Regions from separate parts of the Homo sapiens genome. Here all the other regions are linked to region 2. Evidence: fine-mapped expression QTL. A gene starts in region 2. Each other region holds a variant in brackets. All regions are shown on one strand. Distances are between the middles of the regions. Region 1 overlaps LOC105375771 (a long non-coding RNA gene). Region 2 holds the start of TMEM71 (transmembrane protein 71). Region 3 overlaps TMEM71 (transmembrane protein 71). Region 4 overlaps TMEM71 (transmembrane protein 71). Region 5 overlaps PHF20L1 (PHD finger protein 20 like 1).

The links. PIP is the estimated chance that this variant, and not a neighbour inherited with it, causes the effect. A credible set is the group of variants that fine-mapping cannot tell apart.
Region 1: its variant is the best candidate, but not a certain one, in a credible set for the expression of TMEM71 in whole blood (Lepik 2017, PIP 0.84).
Region 3: its variant is the best candidate, but not a certain one, in a credible set for the expression of TMEM71 in whole blood (TOPMed, PIP 0.72).
Region 4: its variant is the best candidate, but not a certain one, in a credible set for the expression of TMEM71 in whole blood (TOPMed, PIP 0.53).
Region 5: its variant is the best candidate, but not a certain one, in a credible set for the expression of TMEM71 in whole blood (INTERVAL, PIP 0.77).

Annotation. Positions count from the first base shown.
Region 1 is chr8:133,340,081-133,346,275 of GRCh38, reverse strand. It overlaps LOC105375771 (a long non-coding RNA gene), which reads left to right. Exons shown (of 3, transcript XR_001746096.2): 3 at 925-1,521. Among named protein-coding and RNA genes, the nearest start is that of NDRG1, 46 kb to the right of the region's middle. The variant G/A (reference allele first, on the strand shown) is at 3,209.
Region 2 is chr8:132,757,639-132,763,833 of GRCh38, reverse strand. It overlaps TMEM71 (transmembrane protein 71), which reads left to right and starts at 3,252. Exons shown (of 10, transcript NM_001382403.1): 1 at 3,252-3,358; 2 at 4,919-4,994. The coding sequence starts at 4,955.
Region 3 is chr8:132,734,219-132,740,413 of GRCh38, reverse strand. The region is part of intron 5 of TMEM71 (transmembrane protein 71); the gene reads left to right. Among named protein-coding and RNA genes, the nearest start is that of TMEM71, 23 kb to the left of the region's middle. The variant A/G (reference allele first, on the strand shown) is at 3,554.
Region 4 is chr8:132,727,453-132,733,647 of GRCh38, reverse strand. It overlaps TMEM71 (transmembrane protein 71), which reads left to right. Exons shown (of 10, transcript NM_001382403.1): 6 at 5,662-5,850. Among named protein-coding and RNA genes, the nearest start is that of TMEM71, 30 kb to the left of the region's middle. The variant T/A (reference allele first, on the strand shown) is at 2,917.
Region 5 is chr8:132,829,309-132,835,503 of GRCh38, reverse strand. PHF20L1 (PHD finger protein 20 like 1) reads right to left here. Exons shown (of 21, transcript NM_016018.5): 15 at 3,105-3,269. Among named protein-coding and RNA genes, the nearest start is that of TG, 35 kb to the left of the region's middle. The variant G/A (reference allele first, on the strand shown) is at 3,038.

The DNA of each region.
Region 1 (6,195 bases), 580 kb before region 2:
ACACGCATGTAAAAGTATGCTCGACAGAACTAATAATTGGGGAAACACATGTCTACATTTCACATTTTTCCCTGCTCAAGGATGGAACAAGGTATGGCAAAGATTCAGAGGTCCCTGTTGGAGTGAAAATATCTGCAAATCTTCTAGAGGAAAAAATCAATCATATATATATCAAAAACTTCTAAAAACAGTGAATGTTTTGATTCAGCAATTTGTCATTTAGGACTTTCTAGAGCTATTTCATAGGAAAATACTCGGAAAAGTACACAGCATTGTTTATAATAGTAAAGGATTGAAAGGAAGTTAACCAGCCATTAATAGAAAGTGGATTAAATGAATTGTTTCATTGATTTGGTGGAATATAATGCAGGAAATATCTTAATCAATTGGGCTTTTAAGCCACTGACCTTGCTTCAGAAAATATTTGCCAACCCTTCCCAACTCTTATCATCCAGGTTTGAGCACCCAGATATTCATTTACCCATTCATTTCAGACATGTATTTAGTGCCACGTGAGAGCAGTAATTGTGTATGATATTGTCCCTGTCTCTGAAGTATTTTCACCGTGGTTGGCAAAAGTATTTAAAAACATTAATTATTAAGTAAACACAAAGCAAATAGAACAGTTGAATGCACATTGACTGACAACACCATCTCTTTCATCCAGAAGTCACCAGCAAGGTCCAAAATGAATAAAAGAGTACCTAATGCTAGGGAGGATGAAGGCTAAGAAGCCCTGGAGTTGAGAATATTAATTGGCATGTCATCCTTGTCTTCCAATAGAAGCTTGGCCAAATAAACTATTATACATACGTAAAAAGGAACTCCATAACTCTGAACAGAAAATGGTGTGGAACGATCTCCATGATATTGTTAAAAGAAACGAAAAGATTTCTTTTTATTTTATTTCTTTTATTTGAACAGTTTGTGCAGCATGCCTCCAGTTGTGTAAAGAATGTAAAAGGGAAATGTCTCAAAACAGAAGAAGACGCCTGTGGGCAGCACCTTCTGCAGAGTGATCCTGGGAGCTGGAAAGAAGACTCACTTTTCATTTTACAACCTTGGGCACTGTAAGGATATTTTGGGCTTGGTATGTGTGTTTTGTTGTTGTTGTTTTTTGTTTGTTTTATTATACTTTAAGTTTTAGGGTACATGTACACAACGTGCTGGTTAGTTACATATGTATACATGTGCCATGTTGGTGTGCTGCACCCATTAACTCATCATTTAACATTAGGTATATCTCCTAATGCTATCCCTCCCCCTCCCCCCACCCCACAACAGGCCCCGGTGTGTGATGTTCCCCTTCCTGTGTCCATGTGTTCTCATTGTTCAATTCCCACCTATGAGTGAGAACATGCGGTGTTTGGTTTTTTGTCCTTGAGATAGTTTGCTGAGAATGATGGTTTCCAGCTTCATCCATGTCCCTACAAAGGACATGAACTCATCATTTTTTATGGCTGCATAGTATTCCATGGTGTATGGTATGTGTGTTTTATAAAAATAACTTAATGAAACATTTTTAATGTCTCAGAGATAGTGTGTTCATGACAGTTCACCTCACTAGCATCTTCTGAATCCACTCATTTATTCATCCATTTGTCCATTGATTCAGCATTTTGGTGGCAGTCATTTTAGGAAGGAAGATATGAAAGCAGAGAAGACAAGGCCCCCACTTCCAGGACAGGATCCTCAGAGTCTAAGGGGGAAGGCCATGGGAGCAGGTGCTGAGAGGAGGAGGGTCTCCCCAGAGCTGAGGAGGGCTCAAGAGGCAGTGACTGACCTCACCTAGCTGCATGTGTGCAGTGGGGGCATGGCTGGGCAGCAGGGAGGGTCCAAGAAAAGGGGCTATCTAAGCTGGGCTTTGAAAGGCACATGAAGTTGGGTCAGATGAGGAAGGCCAGGCAGGAACCTTGGCATCCACTAGAGCAAACAATTAATGTTTCCAACTCAACCGACCTATTTGGCAGGAATGAGAAATTCATGAGCCAAAGGGGAGAGAGAAGGAAGGAGGCATTCAGACTGGGAGACTATGAGAGAGATTTTATGGTTTTTCATGGAAGAAATCACACCTCGTTTTATTATTTTTGATTTTTATTACGTTTACAAAAAAAAATCTGTACCCATCTTCAGTCACATGGCAACCAAAGACCCTGCTGCTCAGAGCAGTGAACTTTGTCTCTCCTCTTCCAGAGTAGCTCATGATATTACAGGGTCCAGTCCAGGGCTGCCGGGAGGACAATGCAGTTTCTCTTAGACACTGAAATACATTTCAATGACACAGCAGCAGGCCACTGAGAGCTTCTGGTAGGGCTTCTCAAACTTCTGTCATTCAAGGTCCCAGTTAATATAGGGCACTTGTAATCATAGCTGGATTCCTGGAGGTGTGAACTTGGGCAAGTCACTTTCTCTCTCTGAAAATCCAACATCCCCAACTTTCAGGATTGACACAAAGACTAATGTGACATTGTCCTACATCAATTGCCCATCATCATCTTATATCTCAAATGCCTTACATTTATCCTCTACGTGTCTGGGCAATATTCCCTGCCCAAGGACTTGTTGATAGCAGCCACCCAGGCTGCCCTCTGATCTCCCTTTTCTCTTCTTCCTCCTATAGTATCTTTCAGATCAGTCTTGCATTGACTCCCATAGACACAGTCGTGGTTCAGTTTTCATTCTGCCTCGCATTTTCTCCCTGACTTGGTGTTTCCACACATAGTGGAAGACATCAAGGTCTTTTGAAAATACAGATCTGATTATGTCAACCTCCTGTTTCTAATTCCTCAATGGCTCCCAATTGCCTAAAGGCAAATCACGACTACTCATGAGAGTATACAAGGGCCTTCCTGGCCAGCCTCTATCTACTCAATCAGCCTCAATTCTAGATTTTCCAAATCCCCTGTTTTATGCCCAACAGATATGATTATTAATCATTCCTAAAACCCACCGCATTTTCTCATGCTTCCATGCTTTTGCACAGGCTGTTCCCACTGCCTGGAACTACCATGCTTTCCAAACTTTCTCTTTATCTAGAAGTATTGTGCCTCCTTGGCATTTCCCCAGACACCTACGTTCCCTGGCTAGGTTAGGTGACTCTGCTCTGTACTCCTTCCTATAGTTGTCTGAGCTACCTCAGTCATCACAGTTAGCACAGAGCCTGGGCTCAGCTTTTCTCTGTACCCGCTTCTTTTGTTGACCTAGAGTG[G/A]CCTAAGTGGTGCATCCAGCACGGAGCATGGTTAGAGAGAACAGATGTGAGTCAAATGAGAGAATGTATGTCTCTGGTGCTAACCCAGGGTATGAGTGACAGCCCTTTGCCTGTGTTTCAGATACAATGTCCCTTGTCTGAGAGCTTCCACGGTATGTGGAAATGACCACCGTCACCTTCCACTAGGAGACTGTTTCTTCCAATGCAATTACCAGACATGTGGAACAACTGGGGCTTAACATCTTTCCATCATTAGAATAGAAGGTATTATGGCTCTCCAAAAAAACAGAACCAATAGGAAAGACATATAGATATATAGATATAGATATAAATTAATGAAAAGATTGTGAGGAATTGACTCATGTGGTTGTGGAGGCTGAGAATTCTCACCATCTTCTATCCACCAGCTGGAGACCCAGGAAAGTGAGTGCTGTAATTCCAGCCTGAATCCAAAGGCCTGACAACCAGGGAATTTGACGCTATAAGTCCCGGTCCAAGGGCAAGAGAAGATGAGATGCCCCAGCTCAACCAGGCATGCAGGAAGCAAAAGGGATGAATCTTTCCCTCCTTCCTCTGCCTTTTTGTTCTATTCAGCCCCTCGATGGATTGGATGGTTTCCACCCACACTGGGAAGGGCCATCTGCTTTACTAAGTTCCCCCACTTGAATGCTAGTCTCATCCAGAAACATCTGCACAGATACACCTGGAAAAAATTGGTGAATCAGAGCATTAACCCGTTGGCCCAGTCAAGTTGACACAAAATTAAACCATCACAGAAACTATCTCTTCTGAATAAATATATTTCTCCTTTCCATGGACAAATCTACCTTTAATTAATTTTACAGGGCTTCTGTGGGCAAAGGAATCTTAGAGTTCATCTAGTTAGTTCTGCCCCTGTGCCTGCTTTGCAGATGGGGAAACTGAGGCTCAGAGAGCAGACCTGAGTCCCAGGGCCTGCTGTGGGGCAGAGCTAGTCTGAGCTCCTTCCAGCACGCCTTGCTCTGCAGTGAGCCTGATTTATTTCCAGGGGCTGTGGTCTTGGCCCTCCTGGGCCTGCTGCCTTGTTTTCCCGTGGCCCCTTACAGAGCTCAAAACACTCCCCGCTCAGAAATGAGGTGATTACTCTCACTTTTGCAGATGAGGAAACAGAGGCCCAGACAAGTGCAGTGTCCCGAGGTCACCAGCAGAAGACTCAAACTGAGGTCCTCTGTCTCCTAACCCAGTGCTGTTTCTTCTAAAAAAAAACAAAAAAACCCAAACCCATTGGGATACAAGGACCAAGAAACGTAATTGTTTCTAGATAATTTAAAAGGCAAAGATGCATAGATACTGCCTGTGTCTTAGAAGCTGGAAGAAAATACAGTTCAGAAGGCTAGGGAAGAATGATAGAGGAGCATAGGGTAACTTCTCTAAATGCTGTTTACATACCTGGAATTCCACCACACCCTCTGCCAGTGCAAGCTTCCTCTTTCTGACCCATTTATTTCCTAGAAAAGAACTAAAACTCATGACTCCATTCCCCTTTGTAAAGTAGATATTCTTTACTATCTGAATCCAAATTATAGATCCTATGATCTCCTTACATATGTAATTTTAAGACAATAGATATGATGTGCTTTTACATATAAAGGAGAAATGGAATAAAAATGATTTGTAGTATATTTCTAAATATGCAAGTGCTTGGGCATGACCACACTGGAAGACATGATGAAACAATCAGATTCCCAACACCTATAAATAAGGAACCACTGTGAATGCACACTTACAAACACAGACCAACTTGGGTGTGTTTTGCTGGTGATTCAGAGACTATGAGTAGAATTGCTGAGAGTGTTGTAATTTTCCCAAACAGCAAGTGACTCTTGAAAGAACTCCAGACCAAACAAAGCACAAGCTTCTCTCACTTTACACTGTAGTTGCTTCCTAGAACATTTAGGAAATATTAACAGTGTGCACAAAAGCCCGTCTGAGTGTCTATGTAACATGTAGCTAGGTTCTGAGCTTAGATCATCATAAACGACTGTTTTACTTGCATGAATGTCCACCGGCACATTTTTTTCATACCCTTAGCTTGACTTCAGTAGCACATTTTTAAGTAGGGTGGGATATGAAGTAATTTTTGTACAGTAAACAAATGATGGATGCAGGGTAGGGTAGTACACCTATGTAACTCACACTAGCCAGACCGTGGTTAATACAGGGTTTGGCGGGAGATAGGTAGATAATAGTAAATAATGATAATAAAAATAATAGCTAGCACTTGTATAATTTGTGCCAGGAACTTTTTTTTTTTTTTTTTTTAGACGGAGTCTCACTCTGTCACCCAGGCTGGAGTGCAGTGGTGCGATCTTGGCTCACTGCAACCTCTGCCTCCCGGGTTCAAGCAATTATCTGCCTCATCTGCCTCAGCCTCCTGAGTAGCTGGGATTACAGGTCCCTGACACCATTCCTGGCTAATTTTTGTATTTTTAGTAGAGGCGAGGTTTCACCACCTTGGCCAGGCTGGTCTTGAACTCCTGACCTCATGATCCATGTGACTTGGCCTTCCAAAGTGCTGGGATTATAGGCGTGAGCCACCGCGCCAGGCCATGTCAGGGACTTCTAAATGCTTCCTATATATTAATGTATTGATTCCTCATAACAATCCTGTCAGATTGATGGCAGTATTATTCTCATTTTACAGATATAGGAACAGAGACATAGAGAGGTTATAGGACTTTCTGGAGGTTACACAGGTAAAAGGCATTTAGTTCAGCATGACAAATGCCCAAGAATACCTCCTACCTGCTGTCTGCAGGGGCAGTATGGAAACTGATCATGCTCTGGGTCCACAGGAGAGGGACCTAATACACACACACACACACACACACACGCACACACACACACGCATATATATGGAGAGAGAGAGAAGAAAGGTTTATTATGAGAAATTGGCTCATGTGATTACGGAGGCTGAGAAGTCCCATGATCTGCCATGTGAAAGCTGA
Region 2 (6,195 bases):
CTAACAGTTTTGGCTTTACGTGGGAGCTGATATGAAACACTGTCTCCAATTCCCTCACTTCTGTAAGATCCTCTGTGATTCATTTGCAACACATGAACGTTTGCAACACATAGCTCTGGAACTGGGGTCTTGGGAGATATTATGTGACCAAAAGATTCTCAAGGCAAATAATTTTGACAGATGGTGAGACCATGTTTCCTGTGTATAGTAGCAAGTCCGAGTATCATTTAAAAGATTCTATAGTGACCTCTATTAGAGACCTATGCTTTCTAGAACTTTTTGTACTGAAATTTGCCACTCGTCTTTTCCCCATCCACACGCATCACCTCCATTAACAGTGGAGGACTGAATATTCTGTGGAACATGCTTTTAGAAACATTGATTTATAACATGCAGAATAAAGGTTCTGAAGGCAAGTCTACCTGGATGTAATTAATTTATTTGTTAATTCCACAAACATTAATTGATAACCTACTATATGGGAAGCACTACTCTTGATACTTGGGCTATTAAAATGAAGCAAAATGACAATATTCTCTGCTCTTTTAATGCTCATGTTCTGGCTGAGGAGTACGTTTCTTATTACAAGGAATGAATTGTGTGACATATTCCTTGGTAAAAAGTGCTAAGGAGAAGAATAAAGCAGGAAGAGACTAGGGAGTGGTGTGGAGGGCAATTAATTAGTAGCAAGGCAGTGGAGAAAAGAGCTGAGGGAGGGGAGGAAGAAAGCCCTGTGACCCTTAGGGTGAGGGAACACTAACCTCAAAGATCTTGAAGTAGACCCGTGTCTAGTGTATGAGAAACAAGAAGAAGATGAGTGGGTCTCAAGAGAGAAGATTGAGAGGGGAACCATAGGTTTGGAATTTAGTTCTGGCCATTGGCAATTTTGAAAGATTTATGCAAACTCTATAAACCTCTGTCCTGCATGTGGATAACAATTGCACTTATTTTCTAGGGCTACGTGAGGTTGAAACAAGATTACATATGTACAGTGTTTAGTGCAGTGCCTGGTTTGTAGAAAATGCTGACACACGTTGGATATGATCATTACACTTATAGGTTAAGAAAGCAAACTCGAGAGCCATCTCATCAGGGTTTGAATCCTAGCTCTACTTACTCATCACGTACTGGCTATGTGAATTTGGGCAACTCTCTAAACTCAGTTTGCTCTTCTGTAAAATGAGAATAATAATACAGCATCTCCCATGGAATTGATGTAACAATTAATGTGTTGATATGTGGAAAGACCTTAGAACAGTGCCTGGTACATAGTAAGCACTCCTTAAAGTTAGCAATTATTATGATCATTAATAATAAGGTTCTAATATGTGCCAGATCTTTAAAAAAAAAAAAAGTAGACCAAAGTCTTTCTGATGTGAGCTCTTCGGAAAAGTGGATTTGTGGGCACAGGAAGAGCAGAGGGTCTCGAATAAGTCAGAAAGATTTTCCTCCCTCATCTAGAAGAGATAAGCCAAGGCTGGAAGAGGGAGGATGAGGGATAAGAAAAACAGGAAAAGGAGAAGAAGAGAACTGTGAATTCCAGTAAAGAGAATACCAGACAGCTGTGAAGCAGAATAGCTGTCTGTTAAATTTAGGCAGATGTGACCAGGAGTAGCCTTGAGTAAATGTGACTATATTCTACAGGAGTCACTAAAGCAGCAGAGAGTCAGCAATGACAGATGGCTCAGGAAGTGACCTGTGTTAGGACTATGCATCTGCTATGTGTTGCTGTGTAACAAATTACCTCAAAACGTGGTGGCTTGAAATACCATTTGTCACTTCCCAGTTTGCGTGGGCCAGGGAGCTGGGCAGGGCTAGCCTGGGTTGTCTGCTTCTGGGTCTTTCCCAGTTCCAATCGAGCATTAGATGGGGCTGCAGTCAGCTCAAGGCTCAACTGGAGAAGGATCCACTTCCAAGCTCACACACTTGGTTTTTGGCTGGATTCCTGGCTGTTGGATGGAGCATCAGACCCTTACTGGCTTTTGAGACCACTCTTGATTCCTTGACACATGGGCTTCTCCACCATGGCAGCTTGCTTCATCAAAGCAGGCAAGCAAGAAAGTAATAGAGTCCAACAAGATGGAAGCCTCATCATGGTAGTGGAAACTCAGCACCTTTGCCTTACTTTATTTACAAGGAGCATGTCAGCAGCCTCAGTCTACACTCAAGGGATGGAGAATAGACATGAAGTTCCAGAGACAGAGAACTTTGAAATTAGATGGGCCCTCCTCCTGACAGTTCCTGCTGCCTAGAACATGTTCTACAGAAGATCCTGCCATGTGGCAGAACCTCAGGGGGAAAGGGAACCCCAGGAAAGGATGAGATTAACTTTTCCGCCAGCCGGACCAACTGGTGCCTCAGAAGAGAACTTGATTTAAGAAAACAAATAAAGAATACACCTTGCACATCTGTGCTGAGGACTCGATTATTTCTCATTTCTTTTATTTCATTTAATTCTTCAAGCCATCATATGACATATATATTTTTATGTTTATAATTGAGAAAACTGCAACTCAGAGGGGTAAGTCACAAATCTGAGGTCACACAGCTAGGATGGTAGACAGGTTGAATTTCTGTCTTGTGACCCCAGAATCCGCACTCTTTCCACTATGCAGTGGTACCTCAATGTTGCTGGAATATATATTTGAATGTACATTTCTTTTATCACTTACAGTAGTACAGATGTGTATGAACCCATAAACACCATCAAGTCTTTGAGCTCTACTATAATGTAAATGTAAAATGCCATCTATAGAGTTTTTTGTGAAGTCCAACCTTCATTAGATAAACCTATTGCCTCTATAGAAATTTTCATAAGATCAAGCTCTTGCTATTTAATAGTATTCTGAATTTAATAGCATCAGTGCATTATCCTCAATAAATTTAAGTGATTTGGACAAAGATCACTACTCTGCACTACTTATAACTGAATGTGGCCATATGATGAGCAAGAAATGTCAGTTCGCTGAGTCTTTCTCACGTTCTCGCAGCCAAAGGTGACAAGTTAGCTCAGAAAACCACCCCTCCAGTGACCAGGGTGTAACCAGCTGGCCTGACACATGGGCTGCACATTCCCTGCTGCTGGCCCAGGAAACTCTCTGAAATCTTCAGCACACTCCTCAGTGTGAATGCCACTGATGTGAGCCCAACAGGAAGTGTGACCTCATTCTGCTTCTTTGCCTCTGGTTACGCAGGCTGTTTTCAAAAGAAAACAAGAGAAGTTGTAAGACTGACTTTCCCAAGAACTATACACTCATTTATACCAGGAAACAGACAAGAGAACAAGAGGCTGCCGAAGACAAAACTTCTCTGCAAGCACCTGTGCACAGCAATGTGCGTGGGCATCTGTGAGAAGAAGGTAGGGTGGGATTCCCTTTATTAAGAGACTTCTGCACCTGTTGACATTCAGACATTTTTCAGCCGAGGAACTGCTCAGTCCTCAATTTTTCCACTGTCAACCACAGGAAGCTTCGTATTTCAGTAATAATTTTGTCCTTTGTCAATTGGAAGAAGAGGCTGGGAACTCCCTTTGGAAGGAACACGTATGCACACATTATTTTTCAGAATAGATGTGTCGCTTTGATGGAACTGGCAGATTCTGTTTCTTGAAAAGTTTTAGATCTGTAACTGAAGGGCTTTTTTTTTTCCTACTGTTACTAATTTTCTATTGAATGTCAGTGTACTGCCTGTAGATTCTTCTAAGCACTTGTGAGATAGAGCAATAAGACCTTCTTTTGCTGCAGGATTTATAGGCTTAAAATTAAGCTTAATACTTGGGGAACACTAAAATAAGGTAATTTGGGCTGGGCATACCCGTACAATATTGATCAAAAATGAAAAGAACAAGTAACATACTAATATATTACATTACACTGGGATTATTTTATATCCCAAACAAATGAAATTTGTAAATGTGTGCTTTGATTTAGAAATCTTCCAAGGAAGGCCAGAAAGTTCTCCTGACATCTTTACAGGTCTCTATAAACCAGGTTTATATTTTCCTAATAGGGTTTATATATAATTTATTGAAATATTCAACTTGAAGCTGTAGAATTAGCCTGGTTTGATTGATTGAATTACAGCTACAAAAACAATCCATTACTAGTTCTCATGTTACAAAATGTGGCCATAAGTGGTGAATCAGAAAATAATTTACTCCTACCTTATAAAGCGATTAGGATAGTGATACTATATACAAAGTTTCATAGTCAACAGAAGTTGGTTCTATTTGATGAACAGTAAATGATCAAAGTTTGCATAATTTACATACTTTGATATGTTTTTAATTAGTAATTGAGAAATTAAATCATGTCTTCATGGGAACTAAGTTCTAAAATCTTCCCAATGGTATGCTATCTTTAGTGCAACATTACTTATGCTGTTTAGGAATGTCCAGGCTGATAAAAACTATTAAAATCACTCTCTGTGACTACCTGTCAATGGTTCAAGTTGTTGGGAAAAAGACAGACACCAATCTCCAAGCACTGTTTGAAACTTGATAATGAAGTTGACTTGTGTCAGATGATTAAAATACACGTAAGTTTGTTTTGGGGCTAAATGACTGTTAGAACCAGTCATTTTATTAAGATTTCTTAATCAAATACCTCACTTTCATTATTTTCTTTGGATTACAAATCAACCTTTTTAAGTCTAGATTTTCCAAATAAAGTGTGGTTCTTATTTACAGAAAAATGTTATTGAGATGCACTGAGTGAGGCAATGGAAAATGTTCAGTCATAGAGGCAGACACAACTTTAGAGGGGTTGTGTCTTCAGTCTGGTCTCCTACCTTCAATTCTGTATCTCTGTATTATTTCAGTAAACAAATCTGACTAGTGCAATTAGTAGATGCCATCTGTTTTGGCATAATTTTTCTATTTTTAATATATAGTCCACCTTTTTTTTAACATCTTTTGCAGAGAATCTGTGAAGTTTGAGCAAGCGGCCTTCCCAAGATGTACCGAATATCTCAACTGATGTCAACACCAGTAGCAAGTAAATGTAGAAGAACTGTGATACGCAATTATCTTTTGAACGATTAGACTCCTTTTAGCAATTTCCTTGCTTTGATTTTGCTGATACTCAGACCATTAACCATCTGTCAGTAGCTTGTGCTTCTTAAATGCCAGTGTTCACTTTGGCAATGATTTTAACTTCATTTTTTTCCTTGAAAGAAATGTGGTATTTTTCCTTCTAGTAGAAAAAAAAAAATCACCGTTTTTTTTTAGATGCCTGTGCATAAATGTGAAAGGAGATTGTTTATCAGCTACTATTAAGATGCAAAACTGTTTGTATATAAAAAATGCTGAATGATTTTGATAGCTACTTGCAGAAAATAAGAGCGCTGTTAAAACGGTAGTGGTTTCAAGTTTCTTCCTTCCTCTTGTTATTTTCTCCCAAAACCCCACTTCTAACTCTCCCTCACACACCCACAGTTTTCTCCCTACAAATCAACCAGCCCAATCTGAAAGTCTAAATTCCTTTCTTTGTCCTAGATACTAATTGTCCATAATGGAATCAAATTTCACTAGCTTGTCTGTTAGGACTATTGACACCATCTCTGCACACGATAAAATTCTGCTTTAGAGTTTAGAATATTAATCAACTCCAACTTTCTCCAAGTAAAGTCTGTTGCCACGCCTTTGGTTAAAATGGAACGAATGAATGGATGATGTTTCTATAATTAAGAATACTCACAGTCTTTATACTTTGGAAAAATGTTATATAAAACAAAACAAAACTTTATTTCTTCCCCACTAATGTCTTTTGCTCATTATTTTACAGTAGAAGTGTCTTAATATGCACTAATGAGGGAGAGTCTAGAACAATGATTGAATTCCTCAGATTACTGAGTAAGCTGCAATAACCAACACATTGGGTAATTGATTTGGGTTTTCTCCTGCTTCACACAAGACGTTTTTTCCCATCCTTACATGAGCTCAGTTTGATGCTAATGATTTATTATTGCCTCATTCTGCACTAAGAAATTTTTTTTTTTTTTTTTTTTTTGAGACAGAATCTTGCTCTGTCGCCCAGGCTGGAGTGCAGTGGAGCGATCTCAGCTCACTGCAAGCTCTGCCTCCCAGGTTCACGCCATTCTCCTGCCTCAGCCTCCCCAGTAGCTGGGACTGCAGGCGCCCACCACCACGCCCTGCTAATTTTTTGTATATTTTAGTAAAGACGGGGTGTCACCGTG
Region 3 (6,195 bases), 23 kb after region 2:
GAGTGGTATGGGAAACAAGAAAAGGGGAAGTGATGGGGATTGCAAATGTAAATAAAATGGTTAGAGAAGGCCTCATTGAGAAGAACTTTTGAGCATTGGCTTAAAAGCAAAAGCAAAACAGCTCTGTGGATATCTGGGGGAGGAACAATCCAGGCAAGTGAAATGCTGGTGTACAAGTTCTAGTCTCAGAGCCTGCACTGGGCTGAGTGAGTGAGGGGGGATAGTAGGGAAAAGACTGAAAGGTGTGTCAGGAATGCAAGTGGGAAAGAACAAGGGGAGCTGTGGGGTCATTTCAAAGGCTTTGCTTTCATACTCTGAGTGGAGGGCAAACCACTGGAGGATTCTGAGCTGAGGAATAACTTGTTTCAATTTACATGTTAAAAGGATTATTCCAGCTGCTGAGTTCAGATTAGATGTCCGCTATTAGGAGCAGAAGCAAGAAACACGTTAAGAGGCTATTGGTGTGATTCAGGTGGGAGATAATGGCAGCTTGAACTGAGATGATAGCAGAATGGTGATGAGAAGTAGGATTCCAGATTCGTCTTACAGGTAGACTCAACAAGATTTGCCTACGTGGCTGTGAGAGAAAAAGAGAAGTCAAGGGTGCTTATTCCATGCTGAGCACTTCACATTTTGTCTTTTTAAAATATATTAGCTTGTTTACATACATTATCTTGTTTAAATATCCCCAAAACTCATAAGAAGTAGGTCATATTATCATATTTATTATAATTATGATAAAACTGAAGTTCAGGGTTAAGGAACTCGCCCAAGTTAATTTAGCTTATAAACAGCAGAGTTGGGGCCTGACACGGTGGCTCACTCCTGTAATCCCAGCACTTTGGGAGGCCGAGGCAGGCGGATCACGAGGTCAGGAGATCGAGACCATCCTGGCTAACATGGTGAAACCCCGTCTCTACTAAAAATACAAAAAATTAGATGGGCATGGTGGCGGGCACCTGTAGTCCCAGCTATGCGGGAAGCTGAGGCAGGAGAATGGCGTGAACCTGGGAGGCGGAGCTTGCAGTGAGCGGAGACCGCGCCACTGCACTCCAGCCTGGGTGACAGAGCGAGACTCCATCTCAAAAACAAAAACAAAAACAAAAACAGCAGAGTTGGAATTCAACCGAGGTCTATCTGATTTAAAAGTCCAGACTCTGCTCTGCTGCCCGGAAGGGCTTTGTTTTCCTTTTCAAGGAGAAATCCATCATGTCCCTCATAGTGCAGGCCGAAAGAGCAAGCTAGAGGAGTCGTATAATGCAATAATCTATTAACTTAAGTGTATAATAATTACATGGCTATGATTTTTCTTAATCTGCTTCCTAGACAGAAGACACACGTAACATTTTTTTTTAATTTTCAGTAACTTTGATTCACAAAATGTTACAAAAAATAGTATAGAGAGGGTCAGTGTATGCTTCACCCAGCTTTGCCCACTGATAACTACTTATACAGCTATAGCACATTATCAAAACCAGGAAATGGACGTTGGCACAATGCCATGAAGATTCCACCAATTTTTACATATATTCCTGTGTGTGTGTGTGTGTGTGTGCATGTAATACTAGATTAGTTTTAAGAATGCAATAAGTGCTTGTTAAATGAAGAAACAGTTCTTAATATGATCAAAGGATTACTTAAATTGAGTGATTCTAGTTTTCCACAATAACAAGAGTGTAAAAGCAGGAAGAGGAGAGGGGAAAGAGCAGGGATGTGGGGGGTGAGGCCAGAAATATTAATTGTAGATATTTGAAGAACCTTTTATGCCATATTGAGGATTTGGGGTTTTATCTAATCAATCAAGAATATTTTTTGATTCTCTTAAGCAGGGTGATGATGCAATCAGATTTGGAATTTTCAAGTTATCTTTGCAGTAGCACAATTGAGGATTGGATGGGAGCTCTGAGGCAATTAAAATCAACCAGTATCCTAAGGAAGTGGCAGGAAATAGGGAGGAAGGAAGAGACTTAAAGAATATTTTCCAAGGTAGAATTGACAGGTTAGTGATAGATAGAATATAGTAGTGAGAACGTGGGAGAATCAAAGAAAACTGAGGTATTTAATTTGGGAGACTGCATAAAAAATTCTGCAAGTCACCAAGGGCTGGAAGATAGTGTGGTAGAGTGATAAGGAAAATGAGCTTTTGAACTAGATGAACCTGAATTCAAATCCTAGAACCAGCTTTTCCCACCTGAATGTTCTTGGGCAAGTTATTAACTAACCTCTCTGATCCTCTACTTCTTATATATAAAATAAAAAAATAGCATATAGAATGGGGAGGATGAAATGCAATAATTCATGAAAAATGTCACACTTCTAATATCTCTTATGAATACCAGGGGCTGGTATTCTGCTTAATACACATTAGCTCTAAAAAGGCAGAAAAGAACAGCTGAGGATCATCAAAACAGACAATGAATTGTATTTCTTATGGGTTGAATTTGAGATATCTTATGGGAAATAGATAACCAGTAGAGGTTTGGAAACATAAGAAGGGGGTTCAGGAGTAATTCATAAGCCAATCTGAGAAGGAATACAGTTGATACATAAGCCAATCTGAGAAGCAATACAGTTTTTTGGAATAAAGAAGTCTACTTATGGAAAACAAGTGAATGAGAAGAAAGGAGCGGTAAGAAAGGAATTCAGGAGGTTGAACAGAAGCCCCAGTAATAATGATCCCTAATTGTGTGAGTGCTAGGGGCAAGCACAGTTCCAAGAAAGCCACATGTCACGTCATCACTTCTCTGCAAAGCCTCTGAGTTATTATTATTTATCCCCATTTTCCAGGGGAAGAAGCTAAGGTAGCTTAGGTACTATATATGAGGCCACACAGGTAAGAAGTCGCATAGCCAGGATTTGAAGAGAAAAGTCTGAGCATGTGCTCTTAATCCTGGGAAAAAGCTCTTTGGGGAAAGTTTCTCAGGCAAGGAAGCAAGAGAGTGTGGTGTTATGAAAGAAAAGAATATGAAGAACTGGCTAATGAAGCACAGCTTGATAAGGAGGTCAACTCAAGAATTCTGTAGTCCCTGGTAGATGTGTTATGTGTGGAATCTTCCCTCCAAAGGCAAAGGAGAAGTTATCTCTCTGACTCTTTCTGACAGAGTGGCACAAATATCTTAGTACAGAGCTCTCGTTACTTTTTAATTGAGATATAATCCACGTTCCTTAAAATCTACCAACTTAACGTATACAATTCAGCGATTTTTTAGTATAGTCACAGGGAGGCCATGCAATCACGACTGCTTTCCTGTTCCAGAACATTCCATCAGCCCCAAAAAGAAACCTGATACTCACTCGCAGTCACTCCTCCTTCCCCACCAGCCCCTGACGACCAATATTCATCTACTTTCAGTCTCCGTGGATTTGCCTATTTTGGACTCTCATTATTTTGTTTCATTTTGATAAAATGTTTAATTAAGGTGTTGTTGATGAAGTGGGCAATGTGATGTTTCAACATATGTACACACTGTGAAATGGGGAAATCAAGTTAATTAACATATCCATCACCTCGTATACTTACCATTTGTTATTGTTGTTGTGAGAACATTTAAGA[A/G]CTGCTCTCTCAGCAATTTTTTTTTTTTTTGAGACAGAGTCTCACTCTGTTGCCCAGGCTGGGGTGCAGTGGTCCAGTCTTGGCTTACTGCAACCTCCACCTCGTGGGCTCAAGCAATTCTCCTGCCTCAGCCTGCCAAGTAGCTGGAACTACAGGCATGAGCCACCATGCCTGGCTAAGTTTTTGCATTTTCAGTTGAGATGGGGTTTCACCATGTTGGCCAGGCTGGTCTCAAACTCCTGAGCTCAAGTAATCTGCCCTCCTTGGCTTCCCAATGTACTGGGATTACAGGTGTGAGCCACCATGCCTGGCCCTCTCCTAGCAATTTTCAAGAATACAACACATTATTATTAACTCTAGTCACCATGATATAGGATAGATTTCCAGAACATTTTTCATCCTGTCTGACTGGAATTTTGTACCCTTTGACCAACATCTCCCCATCTCCTACCCCACCCACTCATGATTTTCTGAGGCTGCCTCTTCCTCTCAGTGGTTACTGCTGCTCCAGGAATGGCTTACTCAGGCTCACCTCTAATGTGCCTTTTGGAGTGTCCATCCATTGATTCTCCCCTGTTTTTTTCTGGAGCAACAAGGCAAGTGTCTTCTCAGTTCTAAAGCAATGTTTTCTAAGGTGTAGGGTAGGGTAGGAAATGCTGCTAGCACAGAGCAACAGTGAACGTTGAATCACACAGTAAGAGAGAAGTTGTGGCTCCTCTTCCAATTCCCTTACAATCCTTCTGATAAAACCAAGAAGACCAAGGCTCAGTTTAGAACCTTGGTAGCTGTCAGATTCTCTAACATTTGCTACAATCTCTTTGGTTTTAACAAAGTTCTTCTTAACCAAGAACAGGCTCAGAGCTTTCTGCTACACCAGTATTTCACACGTATTAAATAAGGTTACATTTTCCATTGTACTTATTTTTACCTTTACTTTCTGTTTAGGGCATTTACGTGACTGTTATAAAGTTTGCTTTAAAGTAAAAATGTAAAATGAGACAATCTTAAGAAAATATTAAATGGCTGAGAGCAAGCAGGTTCTGGGATTTGGCAAAAATCAGGAAAATAATGCCTGGATGACTAAAGTCTGAGAATCACTGTTCTAAAGACAGTATGTCACATATTTAGAAATTAACATCTAATTTTTCCTTCGTTGTCTCTTTGAAATATGTCCAAACAATTTCAAAGGGATTGGACCACAGCAATGCTGCACGTGCATGAGGTATCTTATTAAAATTCTCATGGTTTCCAAATATCCTCTAAATATAACAAATCAAACTACCTCCATCCAAAATCAGTAATTAGTCAACCTGGGCGCACACAGAACTTTGAAATCTTTCATCTCTGCTGTCAGAGTAATCACATCTTCCCCAGACTTCTTGCTTTCCAGATTTACCCAAGGCCCCGTGACTTTTATCAGCAATTTATTTTTCTCTGGAAATGCCTAGTTAGAAGACTCCAGAAGAAATCAAAATTAAATTGTTTTGCTGTTTTCTCTCTGAGCAATGGATGCAATCAAACATTACTTCCCCTGATTTTCTTGTGCTTCATTTTTCAGGCAAGAGGATGTTTTTGCCTGTTTTGTTTGTCCTCAGTTCACCCCTTTCCCAGCTGTGTTGACACCTTTCCTCATTAGTTGCAATTCATTCTTGAGCCACGGAATTTTGCAGCTACCCAGGCCCCAATACTGCAATTCGGGATGTGTTCCCAGAGCCTGTGAGTCATACTGAAAGAGAGCAGAGGATTCACGCAGGGAGGACTGAACAGGATGGACTCTATTTCTGCCAGTCCTGGAAAAGGCAGGCTGACTCCAGGCAAGTCACCTGAGCTTGAGGTGCATGCCTTTCTCTAGAACTCATGCCTGTCACATAAATATCTTTGAGATGGCAACATCAGTATGTGGCTTTGGGCTTCTCTTTATAGCAAATAATGCCCATTTTTATATAAAAGGATATGGAAGATGTGCTTAGAAGATACAGAATCTTCCCAACAGAGGTAAAGTACATCAAATTTAGAAATCAAGTTAAACAGAATGAAATAGATACCTTCAACAATAATACAACTAGAGCTATTTGGTAAAATATTTTTTGCCTTATAATCCTTTTATTTGTTATTAAGTTTGGAGAAGAAAATTCACTGTCAATTAGGGAAAGTGAGTTTGGGTTAAATCATGTCTTTTCAGAGATGAAAAATCTCCTTGATCGTTTTTGAATGTTAAGACTTTTTTGTGGTTTCTCTGTTGAATACCATATTTTCTTTCAGAAAATTTTATGTACAATTTCCAGTATTCTACATATTTTTTATTTCATCCAACTCTCAGCAGCAAAGCTTTATATTCAACTGGGCAGCCCTGGGAAACAGCACATCTTTTTACTGTTGTTACAGTCTCGTCCACATCTACCCAGATTGTAGTTAAGGGGCACTCATGACTACATAATTAGCCGTGGAAGTTCCCATCTCTTTCTCACTTCCACATTGATTTGATCAGCTAGCCTCCTCTTTTTTTTAACAGCTTTATTGAGGTGTAATTGCTATACAGAGAACTGCACATATTTCATGTGTACAATTTTATGACTTTAGACATATGCAGACACCTGTGAATTCCATCACCACAATCAAGGTAATAGACATACCCAACATGT
Region 4 (6,195 bases), 30 kb after region 2:
TTCTGTCACTCCTTTCTCTATGGCAACCAGCAGGGATGCATCCACAGACTGCTTTGTCAAGCTGCCAAAGGCTATGTGTAAGGCAGTGCAAGGAAGCCTGCAGGGTTAGTAGGAATTTCCCAGTCCAAAACCCCCAACTCAGTATCCAGGCTGAGGGGAACCACAGGTGAAGTCAGCCCACCAGCTATTCTCCTCTCTTGAAGTCGCAGTCTTAGCTCAAACTTAGCCTCCGTGGTGGCAAATACTGACCCACTTTCTCTATAGTTACTGTACCCTGTTATAACAGGCCTACGTTAGATTTTGCAAATAACAACACTACATATCTTAGCCTCCTACCCCTTACCGAATTCTCTGTAAAACTTACTGAATGCTAACTATGAGCTGGGTACTAATTGCTGGTGTCTGGGACAGATGAAGTGACCTTTTTCTCACGGAGCCTTTTGTCTAGTGAGGGAGACAGACACTAAACAACAACAACAAAAAAACACACACACAGAAATTATGTATTCTATTGTCTGTATTTCTGTAACAATGATAAAATCATAAATTATGATCTGTCCTCTGAAGGCAGAGAACAGAGTGTTTTGACTAGATTAAGTACAACCAGGAAAATACAGACACGTGATTCTCACTTGAAGCACCTACCAGAGTTGTCGAAAGGACTCTAATGATCCAGTTGCCTTAGACGGTTAGGTCAGCTCTCTCAATGACAGGGTTTCTCAGCCTCAGCATCACAGTATCGTGGGCAGGTAATGTCTTGTTGTGGCACCTGCCCTGTGCACTGTTGGGTGTTTAATAGCATCCCTGGCCTCTGTTCAGTAGATGCCCGTAACACCCCTCACCTCACTCCAAGTTGTGACAACGTAAACTGTCTCAAGATATTGCACCATGTCCCCGGGGAGGAGAAATCACCCCCTATTAAGAACTACTGTTGTATGAGGACCCCAATGTCTCTTGGAGCCCCATAGTCACTCAGCTCCTAGAATGGGAGACTGGGAATCTCGCAAATCTCTCACTGCTGAGTGAGCATTTTAACACACAAAGCAACTCATGTTACACTCATGCTCAGATTTTTTTAATGACTCTAAATCACCCACAGAATCAATATTAGCTTGGAGTGTGACATGAGACCCCACACAATGTGACCTCTGCTTAGCAGCCCAGACAGAATCATCTCCTGGGACTGACCTCATGCACATGCTCTTGTCTAGCTACACAGGAGGACTCTTCTGGGAACCCACCCTGGTCTCTCATAGATTGAGGTATTGTAATTTCTCCCCATCCCCACTTACTCTCTTCCTCTCTGCCTGGCCTGTCCTCTTCCTGCTGTCTCTCTGGAAGAACTGTTACTCATCCTTCCAGTTTCCACTGAAGCGCTGCCTCCTCTGTGAAGCCTCCTTGGATTTCCCTCAGACAGACTCAGACACCCCTTCCTAGATTCCCACTGGATAACTTGTTCCAGCCTTTGTTGTAGCAATTACCTCATTGCATCCTAATTGTTCATTTGCATGTATGTCCCTCTCCAGATCATGAGTAAGGCAGAGCAATATCTAATTTGACTTCCTTCTTCCAGAGCAGCATTTGCAGTATATACAATAACTGCATTGAATGAATAAATAGATCTGCCTGGCCCGTATCCATGCAGCTTTTGCCTCCCGCCTTACTTTTGCTCCACCTCCCAATTCCTCTGGCTTGGGGGTCTTCTCTGGGTATGTCACCTGGGGGCTGCTTCAGTCTTTCCTCCCAGCTGGTTTCGTATCTTTCCTTAGTCATTTTATGTTCCAGACATTCCATGACAGCAATCAAGGCAGAGAAAGTTTCTATTTGTTAACTGGGGCTGTTCAGATTCCCCTGCTTGTTCCCCTTGAAGTTCCTACTACATGGTAAAAATCACCTTCTTGATTCTTTCCTTTCTTCCTCCCTGTTTTTCTTTTGTCCCTGTCTCTAAACCCTTCTCAGGAACTGTGGCTATTCCCCACCAGGTCAGGTTGGTCTTTCCCAGAGGCCCTCTTGCTATGCCTGTTCAGCTCTGTGATGAGGCAGGGGGCAGAGATTACAGTCTTTACCCTCTGCTGGGGCACTTTCTTCTAGAGAGGACCCTGTCCTATGGTGAAGTCGGGGCAAGTAAGCAGCCATATGGGATAAACCCTGTGCCTAGAAATGTCTGGAGCAGGTTTAGGAGTCCCTTCATGGTATAGCAAATTCCTGCATATCTAATTCAAAGTAAATATTACCTTCCCCAAGGTCAAGTAATAAGCTTCTTTTATTATTGAATGATAAATTCTTAAAAATCACTTCCACCTTGAAACATCGTTTGATGACTCATCAGCACCCTTCTACCACCCCCTACTCCCCATGAAGTTGATTATCACATTTGGTCACGTAACTAGGGTCTATATCTATTATAATGTCTATTAGCAATAGAAGTTTCAATTCTCTCCATCTAAACTATATGTTGGTATGTTTACATTTTTGTCTCTTCTCCTTCACTTATCACAGCTGTAAAAAAGTAGACATTACTATCCTATTTTACATGAAGAAACTCAGGATCAGAAAAATTAAGCAAAGTGCCCTGTTACTAGTATTAGAATGTATGTTTCAGTCTTTCTGATGCCAAAGTCCTTGAAATTTCCACAAAACCATATTTCATCTCTTTTTAGCAAATGATAGTCTGTTTCCCCTGTCCATAAGTGATGCCTTCTTTATTGCCTCCCACTGTTGACTCATGTGTACATGCACACACACACAAACACACACATGCACACATGTACACACACACCCTAGATTTCAACTTCTTTTGGGACAGTGTCTTATTCTCCCTTGTTTCCCTCCTAAGTGTCCTACAGTTCATAAGTTTACCAAATATTTGCCCAGTCGATATTCATATTTCCCTTAGTCATGAAATCAAGGCTTAGA[T/A]GGACCATAGAAGTAATTGTCCTGTTTAGACAAGAAGCAAAAATAAGGACATACTATGGGTATAAAATAACCACAAAAAAACAAAAAACACAAATTTTACAGGTCTTCAGAGTTTCCCCAAGGTAAAATAAATTAGGACAATTTCTCCAAACATCATGCCTCCTGCTCAAAGCTTAAAGCCAGACGGTAACATCCTGGCTACTCCCATCATCTCCCACTGCAGGATTATCTTTTTCTGAAGCATCATATTTATTCTCCTTACCCATAGGAGATTATCTCCCTGCATAATTTATAATTTTAGATTGTGAGCTCATGTCCTTTGGGCTTTATCTGGGGAAATCTGTGCAGCTTGGGCTGAGAGTGTGTTTCCACAGAGAGCTTTTATGTTGGCTTCTGGCAGATATCACAGGGCTAGTACCAGCCTGAGACTTTTTAAAATATTAATTTCCCAGGTTAGTATAAATTTTAACTCAAGGCCAGGCATGGTGACTCATGCCTGTAATCCTAGCACTTTGGGAGGCCGAGGTGGGTGGATCATCTGAGGTCGGGAGTTCAAGACTAGTCTGACCAACATGGAGAAACCCTATCTCAACTAAAAATACAAAATTAGCTGGGCATGGTGGCACATGCCTGTAATCCCAGCTATTCGGGAGGCTGAGGCAGGAGAATCGCCTGAACCCAGGAGGTGGAAGTTGCTGTGAGCTGAGCTTGCGCCATTGCACTCCAGCCTGGGCAACAAGAGCAAAACTCCGTCTCAAAAAAAAAAAAAAAATTTAACTGAAAACCCACTTACTTATAAAGTGTTGGCGGAGACATTTTCCTCCCACCCACTACATAGGCCAAAACAGATAAGCTTTCATGCCTTCTCCTAGAACTAGTGGGCAGATTTTTTTTCTTAGCCATCCTTTCATTGAGGAAATAGCATTTTGAGTCCCTACAGAAACTCGGTTTTAATTTTCTGCCTCTCTTGAGACCAAGGCCTTTTTTCTGTCCCTAATGTCATTTAATCCATAGACCTTTGACTACTATGACTTCTAAGGCCCTCTCCCCACCCCTTTTGGCAGCTTTGTCCACAGCGTATGCTTAGAGTTATAGGTTTCCCTGGCTTGGCCTTTGGGAATATTTCCTTCTTTTGAGCTCAGCTATAAAGAAAAGTACATTTGTTGGGCATGTGCAGTCCCTTTTAGATGTCAGCTTAGAAAACACCTACATCCCAAAGCAGGACTCTGGCTACTCTTTCTGAGTGGCTTTGCTTCCAAGTCAATGAGCTCTAAACTGGCACGAATTCTTACCCAAGATCATAAGAGTAAAGTTAAACCCTGGAATGTGACACAGACCACTCAAGACAGAACCAAGAGAATTCCTAGGTACATTTATGCCAGGTGAGCCAAATGGGAGACTTCCAGTGGTTGAGTCAGAGGTGTGGTGCTTAACTATCCCTGTGGTTGAAAGGCATTCTTAACACATTCATCCTTTCCAAGGAAGCTTTGGCTTATAGAGTTTTGGATCCCCTAATCTCTGACTCAAACTAAGAATCAAGGATTAAAATTCATTCCTTGGTGACCTCACATTGAAGACACCAAGTGTTATGAGGAATCATCTTAGCATGTTTGAAACTTGAAGTTGCATGCATGCTTTTGCAATAAACTTGACTTTTTGTGAGAATGTCAGGCTAAGTTTAGGGCAAGTAAAATATATTTATGTATGAATCATCATAGGAGAAAATGGGTGCATGTTCTTGAAGCTATGTGTGTATGAAATAGCCTCTTTGAATAAAAAAATTTAAACAGATGGTTGCTATATTTTATCTAGGCATTTCAATGTATTTTATAGAGGCAGAATTTCCTTCATGACACTTATCACAAGATATTTTCTTCCCTGCCACTCAGCAATATGTAAGGACAGAGATGTTGTTCTAATTCACCACTATATCCCAGCAGCTAGGTCAGTTTCTAATATATAGTCACATTCAATAAATGTTGAATGAATAAATGAATCAGAAGTAGAAAGAGTTGACTGCTGTAAAGTTTGGTCCTATAAAGATGTGAGGTTCATATACTGACTACATATCCTTTAAATCCATCTATACAAACTTCAGTGTCATTGAAGATGCCTCTGGCCTTTGTTTATCTCTGCACTGAAGATATTTCTCTTCAACCTTCAAGTATGAAGACAAATTGAAATGCCATTTGAAATGGTTTGCCTGTGTCCTCACCCAAATCTCATATTGAATTGTAGCTCCCACAATTCCCACATGTTGTGAGAGGGATCTGGTGGGAGGGTATTGAATCATGGTGATGGGTCTTTCTCATGCTGTTCTCATGATAGTGAATAAGTCTCATGAGATCTGATGGTTTTACAAGGGATTTCTCTTTTCACTTGACTCTTATTCTCTCTTTACCTGCCACTATCCATGTAAGATGTGACTTTGCTCCTCCTTGCCTTCCACCATGATTGTGAAGCCTCCCCAGCCATGTGGAACTGTGAGTCCATTAAATCTCTTTTTCTTTATAAATTACCCAGTCTCAGGAAAGTCTTTATCAGCAGCATGAAAACAGACGAATACATCATCTCATCTCATCCAAAAATCCTTCTCCCATCCCACTATGGTAGTGCAATACCGTATCAATATTACTATTTTTGTGATTATTAGGAACTAACTGTGCATTGAGCAGTCACTGAACACACACACACACACACACACACACACACACACACTCACACTGAACCCCTCTGCTTTTTCAGCAGATGATTTAGACTGTTCTTCTCTGACTGATGACTGGGAGTCAGGGAAGATGAATGCAGAGTCTGTGATCACCTCCTCTTCCAGCCACATCATATCTCAGCCTCCTGGAGGAAACTCCCATAGCTTGTCTCTTCAGTCCCAGTTGACAGCTTCTGAACGTTTCCAAGAGAATAGTTCGGATCATTCAGGTGAGTTCAGGTGTTTTAAATATTTGCCACACCCAAAGAATTCTTCCTTTCAGAGCCTGAGAATGACTTGGAGATGACTAAAATGCAGTTAGGAGCTGGTACCAACCTGTGCGAGGAAGGGAGGACATGGGGCCTCTGCCAAAGCCCAGGTGACCCTTTGCAGAGGAGATGACTGCCTTTGGGTGTCATGTTAGAGGCATCAGTAACTGGATCTGCAGTGTTTTACTTAAAAAATATTCAGAGACCGGGCACGGCAGGTCAGGCCTGTAATCCCAGCACTTTGGGAGGCCGAGGCGGGCGGATCACAAGGTCAGGAGATCAAGACCATCCTGGCTAACATGGTGA
Region 5 (6,195 bases), 72 kb before region 2:
AAATTGAGACAGACACGGGGGAATCTTTATTTATAACAATGGAAAGTAAATGATGATGGAACACTAAAATTTTTGCAGTAGTTTGGATGGAGAAATGTTAGGAAAACTGAGTCATCATGAGAAACAGAACATCGTATAATGCTGTGTGAGCTCCTGACAGAGGCTAATCAGCAGAGCACCTTCCTACCTCACATCCTATCCCCTAGCCACATTCTGAGTTATCTCTTCACTTGCTTATCATCTGTCTTCTCTTACTAGAATATCAGAATCCATGACAGCAAGAACTTTGCATTGTTGAATGCTACATCCCCAGTTATTAGAATGAGGCCTGATATATAATATAGCCACTCCAGAATGTTTGTAGAAGAACTAAGGAGAGAGTCAGAGAGAGAATATTTTCTTTTCAGACTTAATCAGATGGGACCGAAGTTGAACAGATTTGAACTTTAAAAATTCACGCTATTTATACTCTACATTTTTCACATGATTTAGTGTTTCCTCTATCAGCTTCTAATCTTGCTTACTTTTTTCTTCATTCAATGTTTTTGAATGTTTTGTTGTTGATTAATGTTTTATAGAAAAATAAAGTTTTCTTCTCTTTGAAGTCACAGGGACATACGGAAGGAAGGTCAGCAGAAATAGATAATAAAGAAATATCTGAAAATATTCATGGAGCTAGTAAATCAACTAGATATGGAAAATCTAGTATGAACAGTATAACTTGTTTTAAAAGAACCTAAAGAGGAAAATTTCACCCATCCATAATCTTGCTGGCTTAAATCCAAATTTTCTTTTGGGCTTTCTCAAGTTCATTGGAATGTGGGTAAAACAGTTTCAAACACTGTTGCAGCATATAAACAGTATTAAATGGGCCGGGCACAGCGGCTCACACCTCTAGTCCCAGCACTTTGGGAGGCCGTGGTGAGAGGATCACTTTAAGTTAGGAGTTTGAAACCAGCCTGTACAACAAAGCAAGCCCTCATCTCTACAAAAGCAAAAATAATTTGCTAGGCATGATGACCTGTGCTGGTAGTCTTAGCTACTCAGGAGGCTGAGGCAAGAGGATTGCTTGAGCCAAGGAGTTTGAGGCTGCAATGAACTACGATCACACCAGTATTTCAGCCTAGGCAACAGAGCAAGATCTTGCCTCAATAAATAAATAAATAAAAATTAATTTGAAATTATATCATTGAAAGGAATTAGTGTATCTCACATATACTTGCATGGCAAAGATTACCAGTTTTATGGTGTTAGCAAGCAAATTTATCATATTCTCCACAAATCTAGTTTGAATAACTCCCAAGCATTAAACTTATGCTTAGCTGAGTTTTGGAAGTTGAGTAAAATGGATGACAGAGCTGAAAGTTATGTAAGAAGCAAATAAAAGTTCCCCCTTACGCTTGAATAGCCACCTAGACAATGGCTCCAACTGAGTGGCCACAAGAACAGCTGTTGCCTTCCAGCAACTACCCCTTAAATTGTCATTGCTATTTCCTGAGACAGCATTTTGCAAGTGTGGTTTCCTGATCAGCAACATTTATCATCACCGGGGAACTTGCTGGAACTCAGAAATTCTGAGGGTGAGGCCCAGAAATGTGTTTTAACACACTCTCTGGGCAGTTCTGACACATGCTAACATTGAGAATTTCTGGCCTAAGGCCTTATTAATTTTCCTTTTCTTTCTCCTGACTTAGTACTTGATCATAAGGGCAGGGCAGAGACTAAGAACAGAGAGTACACATCTATGGCTCTTTTCATGCTCTTTCAAGGGTTCTTGTTTCAGCACCACAACTAGCCTAGATATAACCCCTATTCTCCATCTTTCTATAGCAAGAGATAATCTTCAGATCTTGATGATTCACAGTAAGGATGTTCTTAATGTGATTATCAACCTCTGCTTCTCCATAGCATCACCTAGAAGTTGTATCTTGCCAGGATCCTTCCAGAAATCTCATTCAATTGTGCCTCATGGTAGGATCCATGATCAGTATAGTTTAGAAGAACCGCAGCAATGATTGTAAGGTTCACCGGGGGTGAAGAACCACTGAACCATGGGAAAAAGTAGACTTGTATTTGCTGGAAAAGGGTGGTGGTAACTTCTTTTTTAATCCCCTCCCATACCTCAAGGTTCTAAAAATAAAATCTCACAAGTGTCATGAGCTATAAAGGAAAGAAAATGCTTTCTCCATAACGAGCCAGGGAGGACTTAGACCTGGAAGCAAACGGTGCAAAAGCAAACATTTAACCTAGTATCCACCATCGAGGTCAGTCAGAAGAAAGAAAAAGGGAGGAAGTGAGCTCACTCACAAGGATCCTAGGTTGTACTTATGCTGAAGGCCCCGTCCCTTATTCCTCACTCTCTGACTCTGGTTGCTATTGCATTAGAGCTCTACTCTTATGCCACAGCCCTCAATGTCTACAGCTGGGATCTCTGTGCCTATTGCTTACAATATTGGAAGCAAGGTAAGAGTCTTCAACACTTTCCACTGTCAGGACTGGACCTGCAGGAAAGTCTAACAGATTTGAACTCCAGTGCTCCCTTCACTGCTGACGTGGCCTTCTGACTACCTAAGGGCGCTTAGTTCCTGCCTGTGTTTAAATCAGTTGTCTGACTACATCTCAGGACTTTGGTTACAGATGTATCTGACCAGGAATTCAAAGTATACTTTTAAGATTACCATAAATGTTTATTTAAGAAAGCATTATCTACGGAGTTAAGACAGACCTTGGTTAGAGTTTTAATTCTAACACTAGCTAAGCCGAAAAGCTACTTACCCTGTAAGTTTCGGCTTGTTTATATATCAAATGTGAATAATACCTACTCTGTCAGTTGATAGTGAAGAATATAAAAATATATGTGCAAAAACCTACAGAAGTATATACACTAGTAATATTTTCCTTATGACTCTCTTCCACCAATAAGTATAAAGCCAATTTAACTTTATATAAATTAAAAAGTAGCTCAAATTTCTCACATCAAGACTTTCATATTAGTTTAGCTAACAAGTTTTTAAATCGCATGCTCTTAACAGAGTAC[G/A]TTTTATTCTCAGTTACACATTTAGGAATTGTAAGTCTTGTTTTAACCATCACATGGTTACACATACTTTCACCACTAAGATCAACGGATAGAATTGCCCTTGGGTACTGATAGGTTGTAGTTTTCTCCGTAAACATGCTTCGTGAAGCCAGAGAACTCCCAGAAGATCGAGTTAGTGGAGAAGAGCACCTTTCCAAAAATTCGAGGGAACTGTCTTCATAGTCTGAATAGTCTGCAACATAAGATACAGAAAGAAATATTAATAAAGTGTCAGATAATTAAGGTCACTATAAAAATAACGAAAGTCATGTTTCAGGATACACCAAATAATCATGCTACCACTTTCGCTTCTCATCCATGAAAAGCTACATATGGATCTGATGAACTGGGTTTAGCAAGAACACTTGGGAAACAAATATACCCCAGACAATATATACATAGTAGGGGGCACCAGGTTCTAACTGGTACCTGTAAACTTTTGTGAAGTACTATAGAGGTGAAAAAGGATTATTTCACATTTTCTCTCCATTATAATCACAACTATGTCTGCAGTAAAATATGCAAGATGACAACACATGGACACATGGGGAAGAACAACACACACTGGGGCCTGTGGGAAGTGGGGGAGAGCATCAGCAAGAACAGCTAATGCGTGCTGGGCTTAACACCTAGGTGATGGGTTGATCTGTGCAGCAAACCACCATGGCACACATTTACCTGTGTAACAAACCTGCACATCCTGTACATGTACCCCAGAACTTATTCGGTTGGTGCAAAAGTAATTGAGGTACTTTTGTACCAACCTAATAAAAGTTGAAGAGGAAAAAAAAAAGATATGCAAGATGGAAATTCACCTTTTTTCTTCCCCACAATTCGTAAAGAGGTTCTCCTGATGTCTGGCACACCAATTATACAGTGATAATCTGATCAATAAATTTTTCAAGTAATAAATCTCTGAAGGTAATTAACTAGTCCTGGAAGAACTCTGTAAAAATTCTGTTTTTCTCAGTTTTGTAATGAGTCCCACAGATGTGTGCAAGGGGAGAGGCCATATGCAGCTTACTGGAGAGTTGAGGGTATAGTAAGGGAAGGAAAAAAGGAGGTGGGGGTGTGATTCCAGGCATGTGGGAAGGCTCTGAAGCTGAAGAGTGCATGCCACATTTGGCAAGCTGTAAGACTGGCTGGAACACAGTGAATAAGGGAGAAACAAAGCTAGAGTGACAGGAGCCAGATTAGCTTTTTTTAAAAAGTTTTACCCTAATGCAATAAAAAGTCATTCAATGCTTATGTGGAGGAGGAGCAAGATGTGACAGTTTCATTTCCAGAGGATCACTCTAGCTGTGGAATGGAGGATGGAATGCAGGAAGGCACACATAGAAGTGGGGGGACAGTTCAGAGGCTACAGCAGTAGTCCAGGAAAGAAATGTTGGTGGCTCAGAACTTGGGTGATGGCAAATAAGGGGAAGATTTTAAGGAAGATGGAGTGCTGTTATAGACTGGAGGCCGAGAGCTAAGACGGCATTATCAAGATTGATTTCCAGGTTTATGCGTGAGCAACAAGGCAACAAAAGTGGGTATGAGATGGGGCTGAAGAGTAAATGCAAGGTGGAGAAACCAGAGAAGAAACAGAAGTTTAGAAGAGGGCTCTGTAAGATGGGAAATCTTACACATTACCTACATGAACCTTAAGATGTGGGAAAGGGGGATGGCAGTGGTGAGAAATGCTAGATTAAGAAAAGCAGACATTCCCTCCATTTTAATAGAGGCTAAGATGATGAATATTTTCATGTAAGCATGCAGATGTGGTAGATAGAGTATGAGCAAGTTCCCACCTGATGATGTCTGTCTTCTCAACTCTGTGAGGAAAAGGATGTCAAGTGACGCAGGTTAGGGAATACATGAGAGGTGGAAATGAGAGATGGAAACGAGTGGGAAAAAGGAAAGACAGAGAGTGGAAAAGTGAGCTTATAAGAGACGCATTGGTCTGTGCTAAGTATCCATTTGAAGGTGGCAGCTGTGGGAGACAGAATAGTCTGCCAAAAATGTCTATGTCCTAAACCCTAGAACTTTTAAATAAGCTAAGCTATGTGGAAAAGTGGAATTAAGGTTGCTAATCGGCTGACCTCACAACAGGGAGAGTATCCTGGATCATATGGGTGGGCCCAATGTAATGGCAAGGGTCCTTAAAAGTGAAAGGATGGAGGCAGAAGAGATGACGTGAGAGTGAAACAAGATGAGAAAGACTGGACCACTGCTGACTTTGAAGATGGGAGCAGGACAAGAGCCAAGCAATGCAGAAGCCTCTGGAAACTAGAAGAGGCAAGAAAACAGACTGTCCCTAAGAGCCTCCAGAGAAAAATGGAGCCCTGTTGATACCTTGGTTTTAACCTAGAGAGACCCATTTTGGACTCCTGACCTCCAGAACTTTAAGATAATAAATACATATTTTTTTAAACCACTGATGTGCAGTAATTTGCAACAGCAGCAATGGGAAACTTACACTCATCATCATAAATACCACGGCACAACCAACACTGATTGAGGGCTCTCTATGTGCCAAATGCAATTTTCAGTTCTTTATGTGTATTAACTCTTTTAATCCTCACAAGCATCTAATGAGGGAAGTAGGACTGCTAGTAAAGAATTGAGGCAAGACAGATGAAGCAAATTGCCCAAGAATATACAACTATCAATAGCAAAGCCAACATTCAAACCCAGGCAGCCTGACTATGGAAGCTACACTCTTAACAAATAAGTGATATCGGTGTATTTCAACATTTAAAGGGTGCACAAGCTGGCAAGCTTGTTAAACCCCAGATTCCTGGGCCTCATCTCCAGTGCACTGGGAATGAAACACTCCCAGATGATGCTGATGCTGTCAGATTACAGCAGTCTTTGGGCAGCACTACGCTATTCTGACTCCAGTGGCCTCACCATAACCACAGTTTGCCCAACACCATATTACTTAGGCCCAGACATGGAAAGGACATTTATTAAATGCCAGGTACTGTATCAAGTACTTTACAATGATTACTTTATTTAATTCGAATAATAAATCTATGCAATAAAACTATCAATTACCATTTATTTTAGAAGAAAGGAAACTGGGATGTAGAGAATTTAAATAACCTGTCAAAGGTCGCTTAGCTGTAAGTGTT